2 separate regions of the Homo sapiens genome follow, and region 2 is linked to region 1. Evidence: fine-mapped expression QTL. Tissue or cell type: whole blood. Region 1 holds a variant in brackets; the other region holds the start of a gene. All regions are shown on one strand. Distances are between the middles of the regions.

What was found. PIP is the estimated chance that this variant, and not a neighbour inherited with it, causes the effect.
Region 2: it holds the start of ACP3, and the variant in region 1 is fine-mapped to the expression of ACP3 in whole blood (INTERVAL, PIP above 0.99).

What each region holds. Positions count from the first base shown.
Region 1 is chr3:132,257,447-132,260,211 of GRCh38, forward strand. No RefSeq gene overlaps it. Among named protein-coding and RNA genes, the nearest start is that of TRC-GCA9-1, 27 kb to the left of the region's middle. The variant C/G (reference allele first, on the strand shown) is at 1,271.
Region 2 is chr3:132,316,262-132,319,026 of GRCh38, forward strand. It overlaps ACP3 (acid phosphatase 3), which reads left to right and starts at 1,146. Exons shown (of 10, transcript NM_001099.5): 1 at 1,146-1,315. The coding sequence starts at 1,196.

The DNA of each region.
Region 1 (2,765 bases):
AGACAAAAAGTAGAAAAAACCCAAATGTCCATCAACTGAGGAATGGATACACAAAATGTGGTGTCTCCATACAATGGATATTATCCAGCCATTAAAATGGATGGATTAATGATATATGCTACAACACGGATGAACTGTGAAAACATGATGTTAAATAAAAGAAGCCAGTGACAAAAGACCAACGTATTGTGTGGTTCCACTAATATTAAATGTCCAGAATAGACAAATCTATAAAAACAGAAAGTAAACTAGTGGTTACCAAGAACTGGGGGAAGGGGAAATAGAGAGTGATTGCTAACAAGTACAGTTTCTTCTGGTGATGATAAACTGTTTTCCATTCAGATAATGGTGATGTTTACGTAACTTTGTGCATACACTAAAAAGCACTGGATCGCATACTTTAAAACAGTCAATGTGGCTGGGTGCGGTGGCTCACGCCTGTAATCCCAGCACTTTGGGAAGCTGAGGCAGGTGGGTTACAAGGTCAGGAGTTCAAGACCAGCCTGGCCAACATAGTGAAACCCCCATCTCTACTAAAAATAACAAAAATTAGCCAGGCATGGTGGTGCGCACCTGTAGTCCCAGCTACTCGGGAGGCTGAGGCAGAAGAATCGCTTGGACCCGGAAGGCAGAGGTTGCAGTGAGCCGAGATTGCACCACTGCACTCCAGCCTGGGTGACAGAGCGAGACTCCATCTCAAAATAAATAAATAAATAAATAAATAAATAAATAAATAAATAAATGAGTGAATGTTATGCTGTGTGGAATATACCTCAATTTTAAAATGTATGAGAAGAAAGGACAAAGAGAAGCACTTCTTTTTTTGGCAGTATGGCAGACTGCATCCATTACCACTCCCACTGAAAACTAAATGATGCCACTAAAATATTCAAAATATCTTTTAAGTATATTGATAAGCTTGCAAGAAACCAAGGAATAGTTAGAGGCCAAAATAAAAACGAGAAGAAGTAAACTGAATATTAAAGTTGGCTCTTACCTTGAAGTCATTTGCCTGGTCAAGTTACTGATTTTCTGTTTCCATGGCCTCATAGAATATGGAGGACAGGTGACAAAACCCACAGCCCAAACAACATGGATGATCTTATAGCAAACACCTCTATCTAAAGCTAGGATTTCCCAAAGGTATCCAATTTGAGCATAAGGGTAGACAATTAAGGTTAAGCCATAAGAAATTGCCAATATTTGATTATTTTTGACTTATGAAAAACAATTTTCCATGGTTCAACCTACACTTAGCCCTCAGTGATCC[C/G]CCTATCCAAACTCCCAGAAATTGCAAGGAAAATTGCACTTTAAAACTTGGAAATGAGTAAAGAGGAAAATAATTCCCTTGAGGAATAAATGTTCACTCAGAATTACATGTTAAAGAAAGACATTTTTGAAAAACAGGAACAAGTAAAGACATTTTCAAATGCCTAACAGATGGACCAACAGATTCTCACTAAAGAAATTTGTAATGAATGTTCATCCTACAGAAGAAAAGTGATTCCAGATGAAAGAGCCAAGATGAAAAGAAATGTCACTATTATATTAACCAAAATAAAGCTAGTAGAGCTACATTATTGTCCATCAAGATAGACTTTTAGACAGAAAGAAAAACAAAAGATAAGATGGTCGGCACATATTTTAAAGAGATGCATTCTCCAGGAAGAAATACTGACTAAATTCTTTCTAATAAAATATTTTTCAAATGTATTAGCAAAGGTTGACAGAAAACAAGAGAAATGAAAAAATATATCATAATGACAGTTTTCAATACACCTATCTCTGTAATTGACAGATCAAGACAAAAATCAGTAAAGACATAGAAAATCTGAATAAATCATAAGAAGCTTGATCTATTGAGGACTAACTGACATACACAGAATACTACAACCAAAACACCCAATCTTTTCAAACACAGAGAGAATCGTTATGTACTGGACTGGAAATAAAGTCTCAAAAACTTCCCAGGAATTAGTGTCAGACACACTAGCTCAGATCACAATGTGGTTAAGTTAGAAATAAATACCAAACACACAAAACCGCTTATGTATGGAAATAAACATACATCTAAATACTTCATGGGTTATAGAAGAAATCTTAATAGGACTTACAATATATTCGGCAATGAATAATAATGGACTACCTCATTTTATAATTTATGAAATGCAGCTAAAATAGTACTTAAAAGGAAATATATAACCTTAAATATACCAATGAGAGGACGGGAGAGATTGAAATCAATAGCTAAGTCTCTCTGCTGATCACTTTCAGGGCACCCCTGTAGATCTATTAGTTGCCCTTCTGTCCATTGTTCTGTGCTTCCAAAAGGCTTACCTGTAAAGACTGCATCATCCCAGCTACTTTCCTGCTGACTTCCACTTGGGTTTACTCAATGGGTGACACTCACAGGACATAAGAGATTAGAAAGAGGGATAAGGATTTTTATATATCTGCTCCCTCCTTACTTAAAGCCATGGTTTTAGCAGAGGCCCAAGGTCGTGGCTTTTTTGAGCAGCCCCTTTATCAAAGGTCTGGAAAGAGTCTACCTTCCCCCTCACAACTGAGTAATGAGGCTTACTACTGTTGCTAGTTCTGGGTAACTCATCTCTTATTGGTTTCTTTAACCCTGACACATTTATGTAAATACTCTCCTCCTTACACTCTCTTAAGTCTTCCTTTGACTATGCCATCTATTTCTTGCCAGGACCTTGGCAGACAGAGCATCCCACTTAAGAAGTTAAGAAAAGAGAAACAGAATAAAC
Region 2 (2,765 bases), 59 kb after region 1:
GTTTTGAGATGGAGTCTTGCTCTGTCACTCAGGCTGGAGTGCAGTGGCACAATCTCGGCTCACTGCAACCTCCACCTCCTGGGTTCAAGTGACTCTCCTGCCTCGCCTCCCAGGTAGCTGGGACTATAGGCATGTGCCACCACGCCAGGCTAATTTTTTTTTTTTGTATTTTTAGTAGAGATGGGGTTTCACCATGCTGGCCAGGCTGGTCTTAACTCCTGACCTCAAGTGATCTGCCCACCTCGGCCTCCCAAAGTGCTGGGATTACAGACATGAGCCACCACGCCCAGCCTAAAATTTTTCAAAATAAACTTGCTGTTACTTTTCTTCTTTAATTTAAAAATACCTCTATAGGCTACATGAGAGTTTTTGAAAAAGTAGCCATGTTTGGCATGGAAATAGGCCCCAAATATGTCAACACCTGTATTTCCTTCCAGATTTCAGTCCTATAACTTTGGACTCCCAACAGATTAAGAATCACTGGTCTAAGGTTTCTAAAGTCAGGGTAGATCCCTTTCCCAAGTGACAGCCACAAATCCAACGCTGTATCATACCCTATCTAAAGAAAAGATAAAAGTAAACTGGCTTGGCACAGTGGCTCATGCCTGTAATCTCAGCACTTTGGGAGGCCAAGGCAGGCGGATCATGCGGTTAGGAGTTGGAGACCAGCCTAACCAACATGGTGAAACCCCGTCTCTACTAAAAATACAAAAATTCGCCGGGTGTGGTGGTGCACGCCTGTAATCCCAGCTACTCAGGAAGACTGAAGCAGGAGAATTGCTTGAACCTGGGAGGCGGAGTTTGCAGTGAGCTGAGATTGTGCCACTGTGCTCCAGCCTGGATGACAGAGCAAGACTCTGTCTCAAAAAAAAAAAAACAAAAAACAAAGATAAAAGTAAACTGAAAACAAGGATAGAAATGTCTGCTAACATGCTCTGTGACCTTGATCAACAGCTTTCCCCGCTCTTGGCCTTGGTGTCCTAACTTAAATGGGGAAACTGTGATCTCTCTCAGCTCAAAATTTACATGACATTATTTACATACCAAACCTGCCCTACGCTTCCTGGAAACTTTACTACTTATGAGTGTGGCTCCTCCTTCCCTTTCAATCCCTTAATTAAATAGCTTCCCCTCTACAGGCTTTTGAAGTGGTAGCAGTTCCTCCTAACTCCTGCCAGAAACAGCTCTCCTCAACATGAGAGCTGCACCCCTCCTCCTGGCCAGGGCAGCAAGCCTTAGCCTTGGCTTCTTGTTTCTGCTTTTTTTCTGGCTAGACCGAAGTGTACTAGCCAAGGAGTTGAAGTTTGTGACTTTGGTAAGTAGACTTTTCTCATTGCTTTTTCCTTAAAACTGTGTTCCCAGCAAAGTCTGATAAGGCAAGCGTCAGGTTTCATCTTATCCTTGGATTGTTTCCCAGAGACCAGGCTCTGTTCAAACTCAGAAAGTGAATAATCAAGTTTTGCAAGTTCCTCTTAATGAAGACCTAACGTGTCCTAACAAAAATATTTTTTGGTCGCTGTTTTTTTAGGGGTTGCTTTTTATTTGCTTTTGCTGATGTTATTTATTTACTTACTTTACAACTGCCTTGAATTCAGATTCCTTTTGACAGCCACACCAGTCCAGAAGAAACCACAGCTGGCGCTGTTTATGTACCAAGAGCTGGCTTCATTCAATTTAATCATTATTTGTTTGCAAGCCAAAAAACAGTCATTTTCTGAATTAAGTAGTCCTTTCACCTTTGTTTATCAGGAAATTAGAACAACTATTTGTAAACAACCTTGAAGCATAAAAGTGAATCTAAATTTGGAATTTTAGGATGATTTTCTGATATATAGATTTAGTTGACGATTAAAATCATTGGCACATGTGACCAGTTATGAAAAAAGGTGGGGGGTGGCTGATGCATAATATCAAGAAAAGAAAATATACTGTTGACATTGTTTGAAAATAGATGGAAAGAGGGTTTGCAAAGTGAAGGGGATTCATCATGTTACCTAAGAGTCTGATTTTCTGTTTCTGTATCTTTTTTTCCTTCTGTTTCACTCTTTCTCTGCCTCTAAGCCTCTAAGCTGCTTCTTGCCTTTCCTCTCTCGTTTTCTTTCTCTTCCCTACATTTTTTTATTTGAGATAGTGAAAGTGGGCTGATAAGTAGGTAAATTTTCTTTCTGTCAAGAATACTCAAAAATTATTTTTATAATTTGAAGGAAAGTCACTGTTTCCTTAAAAATTAAAGTTCAGGCTTTTTTTTTTTTCAGCATGGGATATTCAAAGCTCTTTACTTTCTACAGAAAATATGATACCCATGTGCTTATTTGAATCATTATTCTTATAGTCCAGTAAATCCTTACTAGGTCATGAGTCAACAATGACAGAAAACCCAGTGAAACAAACTATCAATTTATTTACAAATGATTCACCAGCTGTCAGACTTCTGTGCAGAAAAAAAATATATAATACTGTGTGCCTTCTTTAGGGAAACCCATGTGAGCTAGGCTTGTACTTCTATCAGTAGTTTTCTTGCTAACATGTGCATGAGGCAAGTTTAGGGACTGTAGAAATTGTACTGCATCTGCCGTGCTTGTAATACTGTAAACCTGTGACAAGCTGGTTGAGTGGCAGTCCTCTGAGAAATCCAAGTTACTCCAAGCTCACTGTACATGATGTATTCCCTCCTCCATGTTTTACCCAAGTTAGCCCAGGCTAACTTCCTTTGACTACCAAATTGTTGTGGGTTTCCTATATTCAGGGACTGCAAGTTAATTCTT